Linked DNA regions of Homo sapiens: regions 1 and 2 are each linked to region 3. The links come from fine-mapping of genetic effects on gene expression. A gene starts in region 3. Each other region holds a variant in brackets. All regions are shown on one strand. Distances are between the middles of the regions.

Evidence for each region.
Region 1: its variant is fine-mapped to the expression of UGDH in whole blood (INTERVAL, PIP above 0.99).
Region 2: its variant is fine-mapped to the expression of UGDH in B cells (Schmiedel 2018, PIP 0.95).

The regions. Positions count from the first base shown.
Region 1 is chr4:39,491,340-39,499,521 of GRCh38, forward strand. UGDH (UDP-glucose 6-dehydrogenase) reads right to left here. Exons shown (of 12, transcript NM_003359.4): 12 at 7,416-8,182. Among named protein-coding and RNA genes, the nearest start is that of UGDH, 32 kb to the right of the region's middle. The variant C/A (reference allele first, on the strand shown) is at 4,432.
Region 2 is chr4:39,580,663-39,588,844 of GRCh38, forward strand. The region is part of intron 2 of SMIM14 (small integral membrane protein 14); the gene reads right to left. UGDH-AS1 (UGDH antisense RNA 1) reads left to right here. Exons shown (of 5, transcript NR_047679.1): 3 at 7,261-7,397. Among named protein-coding and RNA genes, the nearest start is that of SMIM14, 54 kb to the right of the region's middle. The variant C/CAA (reference allele first, on the strand shown) is at 4,131.
Region 3 is chr4:39,524,257-39,532,416 of GRCh38, forward strand. UGDH (UDP-glucose 6-dehydrogenase) reads right to left here and starts at 3,183. Exons shown (of 12, transcript NM_003359.4): 1 at 3,027-3,183. UGDH-AS1 (UGDH antisense RNA 1) reads left to right here and starts at 3,583. Exons shown (of 5, transcript NR_047679.1): 1 at 3,583-4,082; 2 at 7,713-7,874. RefSeq lists silencers at 2,898-3,077, 3,328-3,627 and an enhancer at 4,008-4,067.

The sequences.
Region 1 (8,182 bases), 33 kb before region 3:
TACAATTAGACCTTACCTTCACCAGCTGAGTTGTCTTACTGAACCCTCCTCCATGTCCCCTATCCCATACCTCCTGTAGAACCTCAGACCCTTTCTGGGTGTCCCCAGGAGGTTGGAGGCCATGTGTTCACTTCCATTTCAGCTGCTGTTCAAGCAATTTTCCTTTAGCAACTTTCTGATTACTTACTTATTTATTTATTTTTTGAGATAGAGTCTTGCTCTGTTGCCCAGGCTGGAGTGCAGTGGCGTGATCTCAGCTCACTGCAACCTCTGCCTCCCAGTTCAAACGATTCTCCTGCCTCAGCCTCCCTGAGTAACTGGGATTGCAAGTGCCTGCCACCACCCCCAGCTAATTTTTTTTTTTTTTTTGAAATGGAGTCTTGCTTTGTTGCCCAGGCTGGAGTGCAATGGCGCAATCTCACTTCAACCTCCGCCTCCCTGGTTCAAGCCATTCTCCTGCCTCAGCCTCCTGAGTATCTGGGATTACAAGCACCTGCCACCATGCCCAGCTAATTTTTGTATATTTAGTAGAGACAGGTTTTTACCCTGTTGGCCCAGCTGGTCTCAAACTCCTGACCTCAGGTGATCCTCCCATCTTGGCCTCCCAAAGTGCTGGGATTACAGGCGTGAGCTACCGCACCTGGCCAATTTTTGTATTTTTTTAATAGAGACAGGGTTTCACCATATTGGCCAGGCTGGTCTGGAACTCCTGACATCTAGTGATCCTCCAGCCTCAGACTTCCATACTACTGAGATTACAGGTGTGACCACCGCACCCAGTGCAACCTTCTGATTCTTTCCTTGAGATGCTATTTCATTATTCTGTCTAAAGCCATTGGTGCTTGTTCTTCTCTTTTCTTCTTCTTCTTTTTTTTTTTTTTCTGAGACAGTCTCACTCTGTTGCCCAGGCTGGAGTGCAAGGGTGCGATCTTGGCTCACTGCAGCCTCTGCGTCCTGGGTTCAAGTGATTCTCCCTCCTCAGCCTCCCAAGTAGCTGGGATTACAGGCGCCCGCCACCATGCCCAGCTAATTTTTGTTTTTGCTTTTGTTTCAAGATTGAGTTTCGCACTTGCTGCCCAGGCTGGAGTGCAATGGCGCAATATCGGCTCACTGCAACCTCTGCCTCCCGAGTTCAAGTGATTTTCCTGCCTCAGCCTCCCAAGTAGCTGGGATTACAGGTGCCCACTACTATGCCCAGATAATTTTTGTATTTTTAGTAGAGATGGGATTTCACCATGTAGGCCAGGCTGTTCTCGAACTCCCGACCTCAGGTGATCCCCCTGCCTCGGCCTCCCAAAGTGCTGGGATTATAGGCGTGAGCCACTGTGACTGGCCGTTCTTCTTAATAATGATGATAATACAATACCTCTAAAAGTAGGGTATTTTCAGCTTCAAATAAGAAATGTCCTATTCAATCGTGTCATTAAGGAGGACATTTATGTCACCAAACAGGAAGTAGTCTTCAAGGTTCATTGATTCAGGGACTCAACAAAGTAATCGAGGATCTAGGTTTTTCCTTCTATTATCTCTGCCATCTTTGGTGTTGGCTTCACCCCAGTCTGGTAGGATGGTGGCTGTGGCTGTCACAACCAAATACCTGTTATCCAGGGATCATATCCAGCCACAACATCCAGAAGGAGAAGAGAGGGCAACTTTCCTTGTAGCTGTTTCAGGAATGTGTCCCAGGAGCCTTACTAACAAACTACCCCTCAATTCTCAATCGCCAGCATTGGTCACAAGGTTGTTTCTGAAGCAATCATTGGCAAGAAAAATCATTGGCAAGGGAAATTTGTTAAACAAAAGTAAGACGGACCATCCTTGGATCTGAAGGTGAGGTAAGCAGGTGGGGATGAACATCTGAACACTGGGGCTCTGTTAGGAAGGAAGAAAGGGGAATGGATCCTCTGGATGGGCAACCAACAAAGTCCCCCTAACATTTCTGGAGTGTTTCCTGTGTACCACGCCCTGTGCCAAGTGTTTTACACTCTTATCTAATGTAATCCTCACAAACAGCCTTCTGAAGTGTACTGTATTATCCTTGCTTTATATATGAAGAAATTGACTTAAGAAAGTTGACTTATCTGGGCCAAGGTCCCATTTCTACTAAGTGGTAAAAGCAAGATTCAAACTTGATCAAAAACTGGAAGCTACCATTGTTATAATAATTGATTCAGACAGGAATCATTAGTAGATGCTAAAACTAGTGGATGAAAGTTTAAAGGAGTAACAATCTTTTTGTTTGTTTGTTTTGTTTTGTTTTGTTTTTGAGATAGAGTCTCGCTCTGTCACCCAGGCTGGAGTGCAGTGGCACAATCTCTGCTCACTGCAGCCTCAGCCCCCGGGTTCAAGCAATTCTCTTGCCTCAGCCTCCTGAGTAGCTGTGATTACAGGTGCCAGCCACCACGCCCAGCTAATTTTTGTATTTGTAGTAGAGATGGGGTTTCACCATGTTGGCCAGGCTGATCTCGAACTCTCCTGACCTCAGGTGATCCACCCACCTTGGCCTCCCAAAGTGCTGGGATTACAGGCATGAGCCACGGCTCCTGGCCTGTTTTGTTTTTTAGACACAGTTTCACTCTGTCGCCCAGGCTGGAGTACAGTGGTGAGATCTCAGCTCACTGCAACCTCCACCTCAAACAATCCTCCCATCTCAGCCTCCCAAATAGTTGGGACCACAGGCATGCACCACCACACCTGGCTAATTTTTGTATTTTTGGTAGAGATGGGGTTTTGCCAGATTGCTTAAGCAATCTTCCTGCCTTGACTTCCCAAAGTGCTGGGATTACAGGTGTTAGCCACTGCACCTGCCCTATTTCCTTATTTTTTGGGAAATAAAACTCCAATAGCCAACCTCCAAGATGGCTCCCAGTGATTATCACCTCCTGATATCCATGTCTCTTCAGACAGTGAATAGAGCTATCTGGTTAAACAATAGGATATTATAGAAATGATGGGGTATGATTTCTGAGGCTAGATAATAAAAGACATTGGAGGTTCTGTCTTGTCCTCTATTGGTTTTTTCACTCTTGAAGATGCCAACTTGCTATGCTGTGTCATGAGGATATTCAAGCAGTGCTATGAGGAGATCCAGTTGGCAAAGAACTGAGGCCTCCTGTCAACCGCCAGCACTAACTTGATAGTCATATGAGCAAGCCATCTTGGAAGACAATCTTCCAGCCCCAGTCAAGCCTTTTGATGACCAAAGCCCTGGTTGACATTTTGATTACAACCAGACTTTGACCCAGAACCATTTGGCTAAACTGTTCCTGAATTCCTGACCCACAGAAACTGAGATAACCCTGAAGTATTTAGGGGAAAAGGGAATCATGTCTCCAACTTACTCTCTTTTTTTTTTTTTTTTTTTTTTTTTATTGAGACAGAGTCTTGCTCTGTCACCCAGGCTAGAATGCAGTGGCACAATCTCAGCTCACTGCAACCTCTGCCTCCCGGGTTTGAATGATTCTCCTGCCTCAGTTTCCCAAGTAGCTGGGACTACAGGTGCGCACAACCATGCCCGGCTAATTTTTTGTATTTTTAGTAAAGATGAGGTTTTACCATGTTGTCCAGGTTGGTCTCAAACTCCTGACCTTAGCCTCCTAAAGTGCTGGGATTACAGGGATGAGCCACCGCACCTGGCCTTGCAACTTAATCTCAAATCATTCAGGAAAAAAATTTATATAAATATAAATTTTATGTGTGATGTATACAGGAAGGATAAAACAAAGCAAATATAATATTAATATTTAGTGAATAAGAAGGGTATACAGCATTTTTGTACCATTCTTTCAACTTTTCTGTAAATCTAAAATTATGTCAGAATTTAGGGTTTTCTTTTTTTAAAAACTAGCAACCTTTGATCTAGATCTACCCTTCACAGATATTTTGGTGTGTGTAGTGTAAAAATTTGTTTTTAAACATCGTGCCAACACTTATAAATTGAGAGATTTTATATAAAAATCCAGATTTTTACAAAAATTAGTCGGGCATGGTGGTGGGTGCCTGTAATCTCAGCTACTCAGGAGGCTGAAGCAGGAGAATAGCTTGAACCTGCGAGGTGAAGGTTGCAGTGAGCCAAGATTGCACCACTGCACTCCAGCCTGGGCAACAGAGATTCCGTCTCAAAAAACAAAAAACACCACACCACCAAATCCAGATTTTTAGCTTTTTCTTGAGAAATAGGAAGATAAGGCACCAGTGACAAGTACTGCATAACAAAGTATTGGCTTAAGTCTGCATGACAAGTATTGGCCTGATGCCTGGTTAATTCTTTGCATTTGAGAAGAATGACTTTTACCTGGGCACCTTTATGTATCCAGAGAAGCAGAATGACTAATATTAAAAGCTGGAGAGAAAAGTCACATAGTCTGTCCTGAATTCTGGTTCTGCCACTTATTAAGGTGTGACCCTGAGCAAGCTGCTAAATCTTCCGAG[C/A]CTTCTGCCTGTAGTCTGAATCACAGGATCAGAACTTACCTCAAAAGACTTAAATGAGTCCTAGAATAACATGGGGAAGTAAAAAATGAAATGAAATAAAGACTTATGTGAGGAACAGATGAGAAAATGCACCTAAAGGACTTTGCATAGTGCCTGTCCAAAATGTTCAGTGTTAATTACTGTCCTTCTAGTGATTCCAGAGCCTACACGTGGTTCTGGTGCAGTGGGACCAGCTTGTTATGGTGCTAACAGGAGTGCTCATTGCCTGCCAGTCACTGTGCCAAGAAGATCTTTGTGTAAACATTCATCTCATGTAATCTTTATAACAATTCTTCGAGTTGGAGATGGATTATCTGTTTTACAGATGGGAAAAATAAGGCTTTCAGGTAGCTTAGCCAAGAAGTCTTAAGTGGAATTGTAGGAGAGAAAATTGTAGGAGAGAGATTTTGTTTATCCTTTTGTATCTATGTGAATGTCTTTTTACCATGTCCATATATTATTTTCAATTTTTTTTTTTTTTTTTTTTGAGAAGGAGTTTCACTCTTGTTGCCCAGGTCGGAGTGCAATGGCATGATCTCGGCTCACCGTAATCTCCACCTCCCGGGTTCAAGCGATTCTCCTGTCTCAGCCCCCTGAGTAGCTGGGATTACAGGCATGCACCACTACACCCGGCTAATTTTGTATTTATAGTAGAGACGAGGTTTCTCCATGTTGGTCAGGCTGGTCTCGAACTCTTGACCTCAGGTGATCCACCCACCTCGGCCTCCCAAAGTGCTGGGATTACAGGCGTGAGCCACAGCGCCCGGCCTATTATTTTCAATTTTAAGTACAGTTAGTAATCTTACCAATATTCCTCTGCCCTACCAAAAATATATTAGCTAATAAAAAATTGAAACTTTTCCTGGTGGTAGGGATCAGGTATAAAAATTTAAATATATATATTTTTAAAAACTGAAAGTTTGTATGATTAAAAAAAACAACAATTGTCTTTAACTGGTTGAGGAGAGAAAAAAAGACTAACCACCTTCTTTCAACTTTTCACATGAAAGTCTCAAATTGCTGTTAAGTTACATGCCTAATTACTGAGTTTTTCCTCCCATTTCAAACAGCAAGTTTATCTGGCTCTATGAGCCCTCTTTTGCCCATTTTCCTCCATTTACCAGTAACTTTTTTCTTTTTTTTTTGAGACAGGGTCTCACTCTGTCATCCAGACTAGAGTGCAGTGGTACAATCTCGGCTCACTGCAGCCTTGACATCCTGGGCTCAAGTGATCTTCCCACCTCAGCCTCCCAGTTAGCTTGGACTACTGGCATGCACCACCACTCATGGCTAATTTTTTGTATTTTTTTAGAGACGAGGTTTCGCCATGTTGCCCAGGCTGGTCTTGAACTCCTGAGCTCAAGCATCCACCCACCTTGACCTCTCAAAGTGCCGGGATTACAGGCATGAGCCACCACACCCGGCCAGTAATTATATCTTACAATAATTGTTTACTTATCAGTTCCAGGCATTGAAACATCTTGCAATTTAAAACAAGTACCTATTTCTTTCTTTTCTTTTCTTTTCTTTTTTTTCTGAGACAGTTTCGCTCTTGTTGCCCAGGCTGGAGTGCAATGGCGCCATCTTGGCTCACTGCAACCTCTGCTCCCAGGTTCAAGTGATTCTCCTGCCTCAGCCTCCTGAGTAGCTGGGATTACAGGCGCGTGCCACTACGCCTGGCTAGTTTTTTTGTATTTTTAGTAGAGACGGGGTTTCACCATGTTGGCCAGGCTGGTCTCGAACTCCTAACCTCAGGTGATCCCCCACCTCAGCCTCCCAAAGTACAAGCATGAGCCACTGCACCCGGCACAAGTACCTATTTCTTTTTTTCTTCTTTTTGGAGCTCTTTCAAAGGATTTATTTGCTACAGAATTGCTTCAGTCCACCAATGAGATGAACTCAGGACTTCTTTGTTCAAAAGGATTTTGCTTATTGCTGTGTTTTTACAAATTCGGCAACATCCAAATAGCAATTCTTAGGCTGGGCACAGTGGCTTGAACCCCAGGAGGCAGAGGTTGCAGTGAGCCGAGATGGTGCCACTGCACTCCAGCCTGGCCAATAAAACAAGACTCTGTCTCAAAAAAAAAGAACAACAACAACAACAAAAGCAATTTTTTGCCAGCATTTGGCATATCTAGACAAGAGTAGAAAAAGTTTGAATCTATAGCATTAGATGTCTAAAAATAGAAAAAAAAACCATTTAAAAATTTAAAAATTCCTCATTTGGACAGGACAAGTGCCTAATTCTATCTGCTTTAGCATACATCTTCATACATCTTTGGACTTACAATGCCTTTACTAGAATATAAAATTACTAAGCAGAATACAATAATATTTTCAAGCAGAAATGTAAAGCAAATTCTAATTAATAAACTCATCCTCACTTCAAAGTCTTATGAGTAAAGGCTCACCTTATGTTCGAACTCTAGCATTTGTCTCTTTCAGAGGTATGCAGACTTTCTTAAAGGACCAGGTAGGAAATATTTTAGGCTTTGCCAGCCAAGAGGTAAAGTTGAGGATATTATGTAGGGATTTGTATAACCATTTAAAATGTTTGTGCTTTGTTTGTTTGTAGAAATGGGGTCTTACTTATTGCCTAGGCAGTAAGTTGCCCAGGCTGGTCTCAAACTGGCCTTAAGTGATCCTCCCTCTTTGGCCTCCCAAAGTGGTGGGATTACATGCATGAGCCACCATGCCTGGTCAAACCATTTAACATATGACCATGTAAAAATGTAACAACCATTCTTAGCTCACTCATGGCTGGCCAGATTTGACCCAGGGGCTACAGTTTGCCAATGTTTATTTGCTAAATTCTCTCCCTTTGTTGCATCATTTGAGAGAATGATATACCATTTTCTCTAAAAAGTGAGGTGTCATTTTTTTCCCATCTAATGTCAGGCTGTCATGACTCAGTTACTTGTGAATTGACAAAAATTACACCCATATAGTTGTTGATGGAGAATGTTTTATTTATGTAATTTTCATCTGTAGAGATGCTTCTGTCCTCATCTTTATATTTGTCTCCCTCTTCTCATTGAACTGCAAAATTCCTGAAGGATGAGACCTGGGATGTTTAATGCAAACTGTACATTCTCAGCAGAGCACAAGTATCAAAGGGACATTGGATATATTTTAATAATGATCTAACACAAGCAAAAATAACCACTGAAAATATAAAACTCAACAAGAGACATAAGAAAAAAGCAGACAGAAAACAAAAAAAATTCTTATTTTAGAATGATGCTATATGTAACTTGTAAAATATTTAAGTTTTTATACATGAGATTATATTGGTTTCCTTATTTAAAGAAAAAAATTACAATTAAGAATGGAAATTAAAATGTAAAACCAAGATAAATATTTTTGGCTTTTGGACTAAAAAAAAAAAGATTAGTGAGGAAAACCAATAAATAATGGGGAGAGAAAGAAATGCTACTAATTTTCTCTTCATGATTAAAAAAAAAATCTTTTAACCATATTTGGGGTGACTGGAAATTAACAGTGATGATTTTGAGCTAAAAAATCAGTGACACATTTTATTAAAACAAAAGGAACAAAGGAACTTTAACCAGACCATACATGTAAAGGCTGTTTAGCATAGCAATTTCATGGATTCAAAATATATCTTTAATGACAAACAAACCAATAACCAGGAGGAATGAAGACTGTCCTTCCCTTTATAATGTGATATTAAAGTGTGGCCTATGGACAA
Region 2 (8,182 bases), 56 kb after region 3:
ATTACAGGTGTGTGCCACCAGGCCCAGCTAATTTTTGTATTTTCAGTAGAGACGGGGTTTCACCATGTTGGTCAGGCTGGTCTTGAACTCCTGACCTCATGATCCGCCCACCTCAGCCTCTCAAAGTGCTGGGATTACAGGTGTGAGCTACCGCACCCAGCCCCTGTCTCTGTTTCTAAGGCAAAGTTTCAAACTATGAAAAAGATAAACACAACCTATTATCAACCTTAAATTCACCATGAGGATTAAGTGATATAATTAAATATATAAATAAAATATTAATGTACATAAAGAACTCAGCTCATGGCCCACAGAATTTTTTCACATCATTGCAATATTATAGCTAATATCACGTGCTTAATTAAGAAAGTGTCTTAACAGAACTCTAGTGTTTCCTAATGAGCATAATTTATTGTACATCATCCTAGAACTTATCCTTAATCTTCAATTTGGCCTTTCTGCTTAAGAAGGAAAAAAACCTTTAAAATACCTTAGTCTTTAATATTTTGGATTTTAGTATTATTTATATTGTGCATTTTTCTCTATACTGTCCAACAAAATGTTTTTTAAATATTTTATGCCTAAACATTTTATATTCTCCCTCTAAAATTCAAATGTTTAAGTTCCTTCTCTATTAATGAGCAGATCTGCCTGTTAACAATGGAGTTTTACACAGTTTGTCTCTTCACTTTAACCAGAACCTGAAATCATACTTTTGCTTTTGTTTTTGCAGGCTACTTAATTATCATAACTTCTTAGGATCATCAGAATTAAAAGACACACACACAGATTTCCACTGGTTAACTTTAACTCAGTAGGTGTCTTTTCTTTTTTCGTTTTTTTCCTTTTCTTTTTCTTTTTTTTTTTTTTTGAGACAGGGTCTTGATCTGTCACCCAGGCTGGAGTGCAGTGGTGTGATCTAGGCTCACTGCAACCTCTGCACCCCCACCCACCCCCTACCCCAGCACCAAGCTCAAGTGACGATCCTCAGCCTCCCTCAGCCTCCTGAGCAGCTGGGACCACAGGAGTAGCTCGAACCTCAGGCGCACAACCACCACACCTGGCTGTTTTTGTATTTTTAGTAGAGACGGAGTTTCACCATGTGGCCCAGGTTGGTCTTGAACTCCTGAGCTCAAGGAATCCACACACCTGGGCCTTCCAAAGTGCTGGGATTACAGGCGTGAGCCACCATGCCCAGCAAATGTCTTTTCTTTTTTTTTTTTTTTGAGACTGAGTTTCACTCTTGTTGCCCAGGCTGGAGTGCAATGGCACGATCTCTGCTCACTGCAACCTCCGCCTCCTGGATTCAAGTGATTCTCCTGCCTCAGCCTCCCAAGTGGCTGGGATTGCAGGCATGTGTCACCACAGCCAGCTAGTTTTGTGTTTTTAGAAGAGACAGGGTTTCTCCATGTTGGTCAGGCTGGTCTCAAACTCCCGACCTCAGGTGATCTGCCCGCCTCGGCCTCCCAAAGTGCTGGGATTACAGGAATGAGCCACCGCGCCTGGTCTAGCAAATGTCTTTTCTTAGATAAACTATAACCAACACACTGGAAGAAGAGTACCCTCTGAAACCTAAAGGTTATTATCACTTTGCCTACAGTATCTGTGTTGTCTGGCTTCCCCCATAACTTGTATTTAACTGGATCTTTCCTTTGCAGCAAATAATTCATAAGAGAAAAAAGGGGAAGAAGTGGATTCTTTTTGAATATGAAAGGGTCTTGGCCGGGCACGGTGGCTTATGCCTGTAATCCCAGCACTTTGGGAAGCCGAGGCAGGTGGATCACTTGAGGTCAGAAGTTCCAGACCAGCCTGACCAACATGGTGAAACCCTGTCTCTACTAAAAATACGAAATTAGCTGGGTGTGGTGGTGCACGGCTGTAATCCCAGCTACTTGGGAGGCTGAGGCAGGAGAATCGCTTGAACCCAGGAGGCAGAGGTTGCAGTGAGCCAAGACTGTGCCAATGCACTCCAGCCTGGGCAACAAGAGTGAAACTCCATTTCAAAAAAAAAAAGAAAGGGTCTTATAGAAAAAGACCAGCTATATATTCCAGTTGTACTGGTCCACCAGTAGCTAAATTCTACTTCAGTATTCATTTAAATGGCATTTGTGTTTCACCTTTAATTTTTTATTTTTATTTATTTATTTTTGCAACAGAGTCTCGCTCTTTTCACCCAGGCCGGATTGTGGTGGCAAGATCTCAGCTCACCACAACCTCCGCCTCCCGGGTCCAAAATTCTCGTGCCTCAGCCTCCCAAGTAGCTGGGATTACAGGCACCCACCATCACACCCGGCTAATTTTTATATTTTTAGTAGTTCAGGGTTTTGCCATGTTGGCCAGGCTGGTTTTGAACTCCTGATCTCAGATGTTCCACCCGCCTCAGCCTCCCAAAGTACTGGGATTACACGCGTGAGCCACCGCATCCAGCCGTTTTGTTTTTTTAAGAGACAGGGTGTCACTCTGTTGCCCTGGCTGGTGTGCAGTGGCACAATCATGGCTCACTGCAGCCTCGACCTCCCAGGCTTAAGCAATCCTCCCACCTCAGCTTCCTGAGTTGTTGGGACTATAGGCACATGCCACCACACTGGGCTAATTTTTTATTTTATTTTATTATTTTTAGAGACAAGGTCTCACTGTGTTGCCCAGGCTGGTCTCAAACTCCTGGGCTCAAGCAATCTTCCCACCTCAGACTCCCAAAGTGTTAAGATTACAGGTGTGAGCCAACTTGCCTGGGCTATTATTCTAACTGGTTTTAAGTATTCCGATAATCAGCTTCAGGTCATTCATTCCAAATTGGGGTTTGGAAACATAGTCACAAAACGAGGGAGGCTGTATTACAGATCCAAAGATCTAGAAGGAGCCCAACATGGAAAATAAAACATAAAGCCCCTATAAAAATAACGCAAACATGACCTTCTTTCTAATGTGGCTCCCTATTGTTCTAGTTGTTATGGATAAAGCAGTGAACAAAATGGACAAAATCCCACCATCCAATGATAACCATTCTGTTACCATTTTAGTTAATGTGTTCCACATACGTGTACACATTTTTCTAACACAGTATATATGATGGCACAGATTTTACAAGATAAGACCCTGAGTTATTTTGCTCTTTCTGCCACACTTACCAATCAGTCACAAACTGATGCCTCCAAATAGCTCAAACTTATCTTTCAATGCTGCACCAGTATTTCATTTAATTTCATCATTTCCAAATTTATATATGAAAAACAATGCTGTGTATATGTTCCTATAAATACATTCTTACACACCTGATTAATCTCCTCAGGGAAGAATTGCTAGAACACAAGTATGCACACTGTAAGTTTTGATACACATAGCCAAACTACAATAGGAGAATTTTTTTTAATGATGAAATACAAATACAGTACGTTCAATTCAAGTCTTCCTGGATGATCACATCTCTGCAGAAGCCCAGTGTTTCAACTGGGAAACCAGCTAGAACCTAATACTACATCTGATCACATTTTGATTAAGTAACATCTCTATGCAGTACTCCATAATGAAAATAATTTGGACTAGGCACAGTGGCTCACACCTGTAATCCTCGAACTTTGGGAGGCCAAGGCAGGTGGATCAGTTGAGGTCAGAAGTTTGAGACCAGCCTGGCCAACATGGTGAAACCTTGTCTCTACTAAAAATATAAAAATTAGCCGGGCATGCTGGTGTGCACCTATAATCCCAGCTACTCAGGAGGCTGAGGCAGGAGAATTGCTTGAACCTGGGAGGTGGAGTTTGCAGTGAGCCGAGATCTTGCCACTGCACTCCAGCCTGAGCGACAGAGTAAGACACTGTCTCAAAAAAAAAAAAAAAAAAAAAAAAGACAAACAGGCTGGGCGCAGTGGCTCATGCCTGTATTCCCAATAATTTAGGAGGCCTAGGTGGGCAAATTGCTTGAGCCCAGGAGTTCAAGACCAGCCTGGGCAATATAGGGAGACCCTGTCTCTACAAGAAATACAAAAATTAGCTGGGTGTGGTGGCACACATCTATAGTCCCAGCTACTTGGGAGGCTGAGGTGGGAGGACGGTTTGAACCTAGGAGGCAGAGGTTGCAGTAAACCAAGATCATGCAACTGCACTCCAGCCTGGGTAATCAAGCAGGACCTTGT[C/CAA]AAAAAAAAAAAAAAAAAAGAAAAAAGAAAAAAAAATTTTTGTAAAGACTACAAATAATCAGGTTAAAGGCAAATCTAAATATATTTTGAATGTCTAACACTAATAGGTTGGGCTACTTTGCCTAAATGATATGCAGGTTGAGCAACCACTCCAGATTTTCTCATATACTTTCCCCAGCTCTACAAAGCACATTCTGAATTTGAGTTTACTTTATTGAACCAAAAATGATGCAATTTACTGTCATTAAAGACATAACAGTAAATGCATAGCCATACCCTATGAAACAGTTTATTTCAATTATATATAAAAGTATATAAGTGCCTAGAAATGTGACTAAAAGGTCCACAAACTTAATGTGACCTCTGACAAAACAAGTAATAGTGGCCATGAAGTGGGATGGATGAGTGGGGAGCAATAGAAAGGGACATGTTTACATTTTGCTCCATATTTCTACATTATTTCAGGCTTTCATGGTCTAGATATTCACATATTACTTCTATTATTATTATTATTATTATTAGAGACAGAGTTTTGCTCTTGTTGCCCAGGCTGGAGTGCAGTGGTGCAATCTTGGCTCACTGCAACCTCCACCTCCCAGGTTCAAGTGATTCTCCTGCCTCAGCCTCCTGAGTAGCTGGGATTACAGGCGTGCGCCACCATGCCCAGCTAATTTTTGTATTTTTAGTAGAGACGGGGTTTCTCCATGTTGGTAAGTCTGGTCTCGAACTCCCGACCTCAGGTGATCTGCCCGCCTTGGCCTCCCAAAGTGCTGGGATTACAGGCATGAGCCACTGCGCCCAGCCTACTTCTATTATTAAAAGAAAAGACAGAGAATTCCAATACTATGACACTGCTAAAAAGGAGCCTGACTTTGATTTGCTAATATCAAAAGATTAAAGTGAAGATGTACGAAGTGGGAAAAAAAAAAGTTGCAGAAATGTATTGTCCTGCAAGGCTCCAGGTAGCACCAACCCCAAGGCTTTGATGACCAAAAAGCTTTGGGCAGAGGCCAACCGGTGTGCTGATACAGAAGGGATGGTCCACCCCCTTTGAAACCAAAGAGGCAGCCCTGATCATCTCTGAATTGCTGTTAAGGTCGCTCTTCCCTTGTCATGAAGAATAATGTCCAGATCATTCTTCCCTTGCCTTGAAGAATAATGTACACTTGCAGCCCAATAGCTCTACGGTCTTGTCCTGTAAAATAAAAGAACTCCGACCTCTATTTCTCCTTCATTCCATCCAGTCTCCCTCCCTTTTAGTTCAACCTGGCAGTTTCCTGCTGGGGGCTGGTGATTTGATTCTGCAGTTCTCACCCACACAAATCTTATCAAGTGGTTAGTCTACCATACCTTTAGTGTTCTCTTGTGAACTTTCTTACTTTTTGTTATGTGGACAGGCTGAGAATTTTCCAAATCTTTAAGTTGTGGTTCCTTTTTGCTTAATAATTCCATCTTCAATTGGCTTCCCTCTTTTCAATTTTTACTATAAACAATCAGGAGGAACCAAGCCATTCCTTCAACATTTTGCTTAGAAATCTCCTCAGCTAAGTATCCAACTTCATCACTCACAAGTTCTACCTCCCACCCAGAAAACACTAGAACACAAACATAATTCAGCCAAGTTCTTTGCTACTTTGTAACAAAGATTGCCTTTTCTCCATTGTCCAGTAACGTTCTTCATTTCTAAGACCATATCAGAATGGCCTTTATTTTCTACTAAAATTCTGTACATGATTATTTATGTATTCTGTAAGATGGAAGCTTGCTCTACCATTCTCCTCTCTTCTTGCTGAGCTCTCTCCAAAATCACCTTTAATGCCCTTACTTCTACCAACAGTCCCTCACAGCAAATATCAGCTTGTTCTAGCATGCACTTAAAAACTCTTCCAGCCTATATCCATTACACAGTTGCAAAGTCACTTACCCGTTTTTAGGTATTTGTTATAGTAGCATCCCACTTTTTAGTAACACTTTTTGTCTTAGTTTGGGCTGCAATAACAAATACTATGGGCCAGGTAGCTTACATACAAACATTTATTTCTGACAACTATGAAGGCTGGGAAATCCAAGATCAAAGTTCTAGCTGATTTGGTTCCCAGTGTGGGTCCTCTTACTGGCTTGTAGATAGAGGTCTTCTTCCTCCATCCTCACATGGTAGAGAAGAGGATCATCTCTTTTCTGTCTCTTCTAATATGGGCACTAATCCTATCACAAGGCCTCTACCCTCATGAACTCATTACCTTCCAAAGGTCCCACCTCCAAATGCTAGCACATTGGGGATTAGGGAATTCAACATATGAATTTTGGGGGGAAGGTACACAAACATTTAGTCCATAGCATGTATATATACTATGATCCCTTCTATGTAAAACAAAAATATAAACTATATACATACGTATATGCATATTAAATTTCTAGAAGGAGCCAGGCACGGTGGCTCACGCCTGTAATCCCAGCACTTTGGGAGGCCGAGGTGGGTGGATCACGAGGTCAGGAGATCGAGACCATCCTGGCTAACACAGTGAAACCCCGTCTCTACTAAAAATACAAAAAAATTAGCCAGGCATGGTGGCGGGTGCCTGTAGTCCCAGCTACTCGGGAGGCTGAGGCAGAAGAATGGCATGAAACAGGGACGTGGAGCTTGCAGGAGCCAAGATCGCGCCACTGCACTCCAGCCTGGGAGACAGAGTGAGGCTCCATCTCAAAAAAAAAAAAAAAAAAAAAAAAAATTCTAGAAAGATGTGTGTCTATACTTTCCAAAAACAGCCACAGAATTAAAGCCAAACATGCTCTTCTAGAATCTTGCCACTCCCCATTGAGAGGTGAAATCTGGCCAGACTCTGTGGCTCATGCCTGTAATCCTAACACTTTGGGAGGTCAAGGCAGGAGGAACGCTTGAGCCCAGGCTATGGTCAAGCCATTGCCCTCCATCCTGGGTGACAGAGCAAGACCCTGTCAAAGAAGAAAGGAGGAAGAAGGAAGAAGAAAGGAAAGAGGGAGGAAGGAAAGAGAGAAATCTGTTTGCCCTCCTCTTGAACCTGGACAGGCCTGTGACTGCTACACCCAAGAATATAGGAAAGGTGTTATGACTTCTTACACTAAGTTCTCTCCCTCTCCCATCTCCTCTCAGGAGGGATGTTCTCCCTTGGAACCAGGCCACCATTCTATGAGGAAGCCAAGCAGCCACATGAAAAGGCCGTATGTAGACATTCTAACTGACAATACTAGCTAAGGTTCCAGCTACTCACCAGCATCAACTATCAGACAGTGAGTAACCAAGTTTCCAGATACTTCCTGCCCTCAGCTTCTATGTCTTCTAGCTAAGAACACAAACAATGATCAGCAGACAAGCTGTGTGAATTCCAGACACAGTCTGTCAGCTTAATGAATGGTTGTTCTATGGAACTAAGTTTTGGGGAAATTTGTTATACAATAATAATAATGGGAACAATACACAAGAAACTGTCGGCTGAGGGTGGTGGCTCACGCCTGTAATCCCAGCACTTTGGGAGGTCAAGAAGGGAAGAGTGCTTGAGGCCAGGAGTTTGAGACCAGCCTGGGCAAAATAGAGAGACCCCATCTCTATTCTAAATAAATAAATAAAACGTAACTATACATCCTAAATACACAGTTCAAAATTGGTAAGACCAATTGTATTGCTAATTATAGAAGGCTATGTGCCTTTTATGTCTTCCAGTGCCTGCATATTGATTTAAAAAAAGGATTAAGATTTGAAACAAAGTAGTCCACTGAAATTTCCTTATTGACTAAAATAAAACTCAAAAGTTAATCACACGATTAAAAAAGCTTTCATAGCAACATGAAAAATGCAAAATATTATTAAATTGAGGAAAATATACATATTCCATAGTATCTAAAAACATATTTCTTAAAAAGATCTGGGAAGATACACACCAATTCATCTAGGAAAGTAGGAAATAAAAGCTAAGTATGGGGAAAGGAGTTCAGCCTTACTTTTAATGTATTGATATTTTTTGAAAACACATATTCATATATTATTTATATAAATAATTAAATATTTTAAAAAGAAA
Region 3 (8,160 bases):
GTTGCAGCTCCTGGGCTTAAGGAGTTCATAGTTTAATAAGGCACAGCCAGGCTAACAGTTATTTGCTGCTGCTCCCTGCTGTATCCTTGACTCCTAGAATAGCAGCCTCTCAATGATTATTAATTGAATGAATGAGTAACTCTCCACAAGGGCGTCTCTTTTTGAGATGAAGACTTCTGTGTAAATAGCTTTAGTTCAGATTGCCGATCATAGTATTTTTGCAGTAATTGACCAGAATACTATCAACTTTTTTTTTTTTTTTCTGACACAAGGTCTCACTCTGTTGCCCAGGCTGGAGTGCAACAGCACAATCTGGGCTCACCGCAGCCTCCGCCTCCCAGGTTCAAGTGAGTCTCCCACCTAGCCTCCCAAGTACCAAGTACCTGGGACTACAGGTGTCCGCCACCATGTCCAGCTAATGTTTGTATTTTTTCTAGAGACAGGTTTTCACCATGTGGGCCAGGCTGGTCTCAAGCTCCTGACCTCAGTTGATCCACCTGCCTCAGCCTCCCAAAGTGTTGGGATTACAGGTGTGAGCCATCGCATCTGGCCAAGTTCTTTTTTTGAGTTACCTAAAGAACTTCAGCATGTTTCCCCAGAGTTACTTCTTATCTGCCTTGATTGTGAGACCACATTTCAACTTGCTTTACATACATCAGCTGGGATAGACTACTGATGGCAGGTGAACTTGTATCACAGAACTGGATGTGTTTTACACAAGCTTTATTTTGGGTATTCTCGCCTTGCTATTTCCCATGAAATACGGCTTACCGATGACAATGGGAGAATCAATGAAAAGGCTGATGTACAATCTGTGCAAGTCCAAATAAATGCTCACTTGGAAGTTTCAATAAAATCTTCAATAAGCTTTAACATGGAGTTTGACATAGTGTTAGTGACACACTTTGCATGACACAGATGTCTGCCAACTCCATTTTCTATTTCTTTTTTCTTTTTGAGACGGAGTCTCACTGTCACCGAGGCTGGAGTGCAGTGGCACCATGTCGGCTCACTGCAACCTCCGTCTCCTGGGTTCAAGCAATTCTCCTGCCTCAGCCTCCCGAGTAGCTGGGATTACAGGTGCCCACCACCACGCCCAGCTAGTTTTTATATATTTAGTAGAGACGGGGTTTCACCATATTGGTCAGGCTGGTCTCGAACTCCTGACCTCAGGTGATCCATCCACCTTGGCCTCCCAAAGTGCTGGGATTACAGGCGTGAGCCACTGCGCCCAGCCCCATTTTCTTTTCTTTTTCTTTTTTTTTTTTGAGACGTAGTCTCGCTCAGTTGCCCAGGTTGGAGTGCAGTGGCGCAATCTCGGCTCACTGAAAGCTCTGCCTCCCAGGTTCATGCCATTCTCCTGCCTCAGCCTCCCGAGTAGCTGGGACTACAGGCGCCCGCCACTACGCCCGGCTAATTTTTTTTTGTATTTTTAGTAGAGACGGGATTTCACCATGTTAGCCAGGATGGTCTCGATCTCCTGACCTCGTGATCCGCCCGTCTCGGCCTCCCAAAGTGCTGGGATTACAGGCGTGAGCCACCACGCCCGGCCCCCATTTTCTATTTCTACTTTTATGTACCCTCTGGCCCTCTATTCTGCTGTCAGAGACATAGGAGTGTTTCCTTATTAAATGGGTTATTTTGAAATGAGTTTTTACCTCTGTATTTTGGGAGAGTCACAACAAACCAAACCGTTCCAAAACTACTCTTCATGTAAAATTTCATAAATTCAAATAAACATTCCAACCCAGAAGGGGTCACTAACAAATAACAAATGCCCTACTACAATCTAAACGGAATATAATCCTTCTAGCCCCAGCTCTCTACAGCATATTTTGCATAGGTACCCAGGAGCTAACGATGGGCATTATAGTTGGATACATCAGCTTCACACATTTTAATCATTTCCAGAAATTAAACAGTAAAAGATGCCTGACCAGAGAAAAATATTTAATCAGTAAGAAAGCCGGTATTAATTTTATGTCTAAGGGTTATCATGTAAAGCTGTGGAAGTAAACAAGAAGGAAGATGGATTATGCTTATCCAGTTATAGATTTTGTTAGAAAAAGGAGTACAGCAACGGGAGAAGAAATGAGATCTTTTCAATCAGGGTTGTCTACCCCTTACCTTAAACTGGATCCTGGCCACTAATAAGCACATCTCAGAGCAGACAGTCAGCTCTTTCATTTCCAGAACCCCCCTGAAGAAAGACTACTGTTCTCCATTTCTTAAGGGATTTGAAGAAACTCAAAGGCTCACTGTGTCTTTGAGGTCTGTCGATAGACAGCTACTGCTCTGTATGCCCATGAATAGATCCCTACCAGCGAACCCCTCTTTTCTCTATACTAGAATTCCTAACCCTACTAAGTTATCTTCCTATATATTTATAGGACGTATAATTTTTCAAGATCTCACACAAACATGGTCTCCCGAGGCACCCAGGAAAGGCCTTCCCCGACATCAAACAGAGCAATTCTGTGGTGTAGGGGGCCAACAATGGATTCCAGGACATCCCGGACAGATATCACGGCAGTCTTAGTATTTTGCTCTCAAGAGGGCTTTCTGGCTTCGTTTCTCTTTGGTTTCTTAAGAGGGGCGGCATGAGAAAAGCAGGAGCCCCTCAGGTGAGCAGACTCTTAAACACAAACAAAAGACTACGACTCTGCGGCCAAAATGAGGTCCCCAACGAGAGAACCGCTTCCTGTGGTGGGCGTTCGGCTTTGGAGGCGGCAGGGAAATCTCATCCAAGTCAGGAAAGTGGGTAAAGGCAGAAAGAGAAGGGGCTGGAAGACTCACGAGTCTTGAATAAGAAGCCCAGACGACCACATCCCCAGGACAGCAGTTCCAAAATGCGGTTCCCGCCCTAAGCCCCAAAGAGACGAAGGTCGTGAGACGGGAAGCCCGGGACCCAGCGCAGCGAGCGACCGGGAGCAGCGCGCACACCCCAGCCCCGCTCCCTCCACATCCCGCCCAGACCTGGGAGCATCCCGCCCGGGCGGCGGGGCCAGCCTGGGAGCGGCGCTTACCCACTTCCCAGCAGCAAGCGCAGGGACCGCTCCTATCCCGATCGTTCGGACAGCACCTTCCTACGGGCCGCGCCGCCGCAGCTTCTCCACCCGCGCCCCGCTCGATCTGAGCTCCCTCTCGGCGCACGCCCCTCCCTCAGGCTGCCACGCGTTACACTCTGAGTCCCGGGCCTGAGCCCGTATTTAAAGGCTTTTGCCTGCGAAGGCGGAGGCTTCATTCCCCCGCAGCCAGGCCCTCCTGGATTCTGCCCTCAGCTGCTTCCTAGCTCCCCCTCCCGCTACACAAGGCCCAGGGCCAGGTCCCTATTTCCTTCACGGCTCAGGGGCGGGGAGACTGGGGCTGGTCCTGGCTGGGAGGGCCTGCCCCGCCCCTGGCCTAGCTGGGCAAATCCGCTTTGGCCAGCTCAGCGGCTCCGCCCCTACCGCGAGCGGCGCTGGGCGGGGCTGCGTGCGTGGCGTGTCCGCTGGACCAGGGGACGGGGGCGCGCCGCAGGTGTAGGAGCTTTGCGCGCCTACCTGGCGGTCGTGGGTCGAGGAGGGGTCAAGAATTGTTGTCTAGCAGCCCTCTCCCCGCTGCCCTGTCCTGGCCGAGGCAAAGGCCGCGTGCGCTCCGCGTCTGCCAGGCTTTAGGGCTGCGCGGACACTGGGTGGGTGGTGGGCCGAGGCGACCGGAAGGTCCTGGCCGCCTTTCCGGTCTCCTCAGCACCCTGGAGCGCCGCCCTCGGGTTTCGGTCTCCTGGATCTGCGGGTCGGTCTCGGCGGGCGGATTACTCCTCGCCCACAACCTCGAGGCCCCGGGGTCAACCGCGCCCTCCGGGCCGGCAACCCAGGGTTTAGTCAGATTCCTCCTGACCCACCGCTTCTGGGAAAGAGGCGCCTCCCGTCAGGAGGATGCTGAGTTCCTCATGACTGGACCAGTGAGTGTCCACTCCCTGGTCCCTGGCGAGAGAGGCGGGACCCCCACGCCCTCCTGGCGCTCTTTGCAGAGATGTTCCTCAGGCCCAATCCGGGATTTGGGATGTCTGTGCGTGCTGTGGAGCAGAGAGTTTGCAACATGTAAGTGCCGTGCGTGAGGAAGAGTAAAATTAACCTATGGAGCCTGCTCATTTTTAATGTGGAGGGCAGTTCCGTTCCTTTCTTTCGCCGCTTCGAGGTCATTTTAACACTCAAATCTAACATATAAGAAAAAAAGCCAGGCATAATCATGGCCTTTTATTTCCCTCATTAAGGATTACATCAGGTGACATAAGCCATTTTAACATACATCATGAAGAAAGTGATTAGTAATTTATAAAGGCACATTAAAATACCATATAAATTACGGTTTTCTTGATAGGATCATGATGGTGACTTTAAGAAAGTGGTTGAATGTGGATGAAACAGTTTGCTGTGGATTGTAGCACGTGTGGCAGGATATGTAGGCTTGTTGGTTGGTTGTTTTGAGACGGAGTCTCCCTCTTGTCGCCGAGGCTGGAGTGCAGTGGTGCGATCTCGGCTCACCTCAACCTCCTCCTTCCAGATTCAAACGATTCTCCTGCCTCAGCCTCCCGAGTAGCTGGGATTACAGGCGCCCACAACCATGCCCGGCTAATTTTTATATTTTTAATAGAGACCGGGTTTTGCTATGTTGACCAGGCTGGTCTCAAACTCCTGACCTCAGGTGATCCGCCCGTCTCGGCCTCCCAAAGTGCTGGGATTACAGGTGTGAGCCACTGTGCCTGGCCAGTATATGTAGGCTTTCTGCATTCTATGCAGTTCAGTTCATTCATCCAACAAATATTTAATGCCTGTTGTGTGTCAGACGTTATCCTAAAGACTGAAGATGCAAAAGGGATTAAGACTCAATTCCTTTGGCCAGGCACGGTGGTTTACGCCTGTAATCCCAGCACTTTGGGAGGCCATAGCGGGCGGATCACCTGAGGTCAGGAGTTCCAGACCAGCCTGGCCAACATGGTGAAACCCCGGCTCCACTAAAAATACAAAAAGTTAGCCGGGTGAGGCGGTGGGCACCTGTAATCCCAGCTGCTCAGGAGGCTCCCTGTTGCAGTGAGCCGAGATCACACCACTGCCCTGCAGCCTGGGGAACAGAACGAGACACTGTCTCAGAAAAATAACCAAACAAAAAAGACTCATTTCCTTCTTGCAAAGCTCACAGGTTGGGTAGAAGAGATATGTAAACAAGTAATTGCACTAGATATGACAAGTACATCTTTTTGAACATACATAGATTTAAGTTATCTAATACAGTTTGCTTTGTAATAAAAACCACTTATCTTAGTCCCTTCATTTTGAATTCAACATTTTTCTATTTAGTATTCACCTCACATTCTTTTTTAGTATTTTGGTAGAATCAGACTCTTCAAAACGGTTAATAGGATTTCAGAAATTAAGTCAATTTTCAGTGCCAGCTAGAATGGACCTTTGGATTTAGGACAGAGGTTCTCCAAATGTGAGCTGGGGACTGTAGACAATCTCCGAGGTTCTTTCTGGGATCCATGAGGTCAAAAAGTTTTCATGTGTTACTTGCTTTTTTCACTCTTGTTCTCTCAGAAGTGTACAATGAAGTTTTGTGGAGACTATAATGTGCTATCAAAGCAAATAGAATTAAGCTGTTTTTTAAGTCAGATATTAGAGATTTACAAAAATGTAAAACAATGCCAATCTTATCTTTTGTTTTTAAAATATAGTAATTTTTCATTAAAATATGATATTTATGTTAACATGTAATGGGCTTATTGTCAATTTTAAGGAATTAATCTTTTATATATAATTTATCAGTTTTCATTTCTAATATGGTAAATACCAATAGTTACAATCCACATGAAAAAAACTTCTTTGAGTCTTCAATTTTTAAACATGCCAAGGGGTCTTGATACTACAAACTTTGAGAACTGCCAAGGTAGGCTAGTTATTTTCAAATTATGTTTCATGGAGCCCTGAATCCTCTGGTAGTGTGTCAGAAATCTGTGAGGATAGAGAATCAGTAGGAAGTTAAAGACAAGGCTCTGGGTTCCCACATCTCCCCGTCTTCTCTAATGGCAGTTCAATTTTTCTCTGTTTATCTGGTTTTTTGTTTTTTGCTTTTTGTTTTTTTTTTCTTGAGACGGAGTCTCGCTCTGTCATCCAGGCTGGAATGCAGTGGTGCAATCTTAGCTCACTGCAACCTCCACCTCCCAGGTTCAAAAGATTCTCCTGCTTAGGCCTCCCAAATAGCTGGGACTACAGGTGCGCACCACCACATCACGCTAATTTTTGTGTTTTTAGTAGAGACAGGGTTTTGCCATGTTGGCCGGGCTGGTCTCAAACTCCTGACTTCAGGTGATCCACCTGCCTTGGCTTCCCAAAGTGCTGGGATTACAGGCATGAGCCATCATGCCTGGCCTGTTTATCTGCTTTTTGTATCAATTAGGTGGAGACTCTCAAACTTCAATTCTTGACTACTGTGTACCTACAGGCTCAACACCAAGTGGAAGCTGCCAAGGCTTGGGGCTTCCACCCTCTGAAGCAATAGCCCAAGCTATGCCTCAGCCCCTTTTAGTTACAGCTGGGGCAGCTGGGACACAAGGCACCAAGTTCCTAGACTGCACACAGCAGAGGGATCCTGGGCCCGGCCCACAAAACCATTTTTTCTTCCTAAACCTCCAGGCCTGTGATGGGAGGAGCTGCCATGAAGATCTCTGACATGCCCGTTTTCCCCATTGTCTTGGTGATTAACATTCGGATCTTCCTTACTTATGCAAATTTCTACAGCTAGCTTGAATTTCTCCTCAGAAAATGAGATTTTCTTTTCTGTCATGTTGTCAGGCTGCAAATTTTCCAAACTTTTATGTTCTGTTTCCCTTAAAAACTGAATGCCTTTAACAGCACCCAAGTCACCTCTTGAATGCTTTGCTGCTTAGAAATTTCTTCTGTCAGATACCCTAAATCATCTCTCTCCAGTTCAAAGTTTCACAAATCTCTATGGCAGGGGCAAAGTGCCGCCAGCCTCTTTGCTAAAACATAACAAAAGTCACCTTTGCTCCAGTTCCCAACAAGTTCCTCATCTCCATCTGAGACCACCTGATTGGATTTCATTGTCCATATAATTATCAGCATTTTTGTCAAAGCCATTTAACAAGCCTCTAGGGAGTTCTAAACTTTCCTGCATTTTCCTGTCTTCTTCTGAGCCCTCCAGACTGTTCCAACATCTGGCTGTTAACCCAGTTCCAAAGTTGCTTCCATATTTTTGGATATCTTTTTAGCAGTGCCTCACTCTACTGGTACCAATTTACTGTGTTAGTTCTTTTTCATGCTGCTGATAAAGACATACCCAAGACTAGGAAATTTACAAAAGAAAGAGGTTTATTGGACTTACAGTTCCACATGGCTGGGGAAGCCTCATAATCATGGTGGAAGGTGAAAGTCATGTCTCACATGGCAGCAGACAAGAGAAGAGAGAACTTGTGCAGGGAAACTCTCATTTTTAAAACCATCAGATCTCATGAGACTTATTCACTATCACAAGAACAGCACGGGAAAGACCTGCCCCCATGATTCAATTATCATCTGCCGGGTCCCTCTCACAACATGTAGGAATTATGGGACCTACAAGATGAGATTTGGGTGGGGACACAGAGCCAGTCATAGTAAGGTATTGTTTGGGTAAAACATAAGCCTTTCTTTCCTTTCTTTTTTTTTTTTTTACAGGGTCTCACTTTGTCACCCAGGCTGGAATGCATTGGCATGAACACGTCTCACTGCAGCCTCAACCTCCCAGGCTGAAGTGACCCTCCAACTCTGCTTTCACAGTAGCTGTGATATGGTTTGGCTGTGTCCCCACCCACATCTCATCTTAAAACCCAGTGGGAGGTAATTGAATCATGGGGGCAAGTCTTTCCTGTGCTGTTCTTGTGATAGTGAATAAGTCTCATGAGATCTGATGGTTTTTAAAAGAGTTCTGGCTGGGCATGGTGGTGGGCACCTGTAATCCAAACTACTAGGGAGGCTGAGGCAGAGTGAATTGCTTGAACCTGGGAGAAGGAGGTTGCAGTGAGCCGAGATTGCACCGCTGCACTCCAGCCTGGGCAAAATTGAAGACTCTGTCTCCAAAAAAAAAAAAAAGGAGTTCCTCTGCATAAGCTCTCTCTCTTTGCCT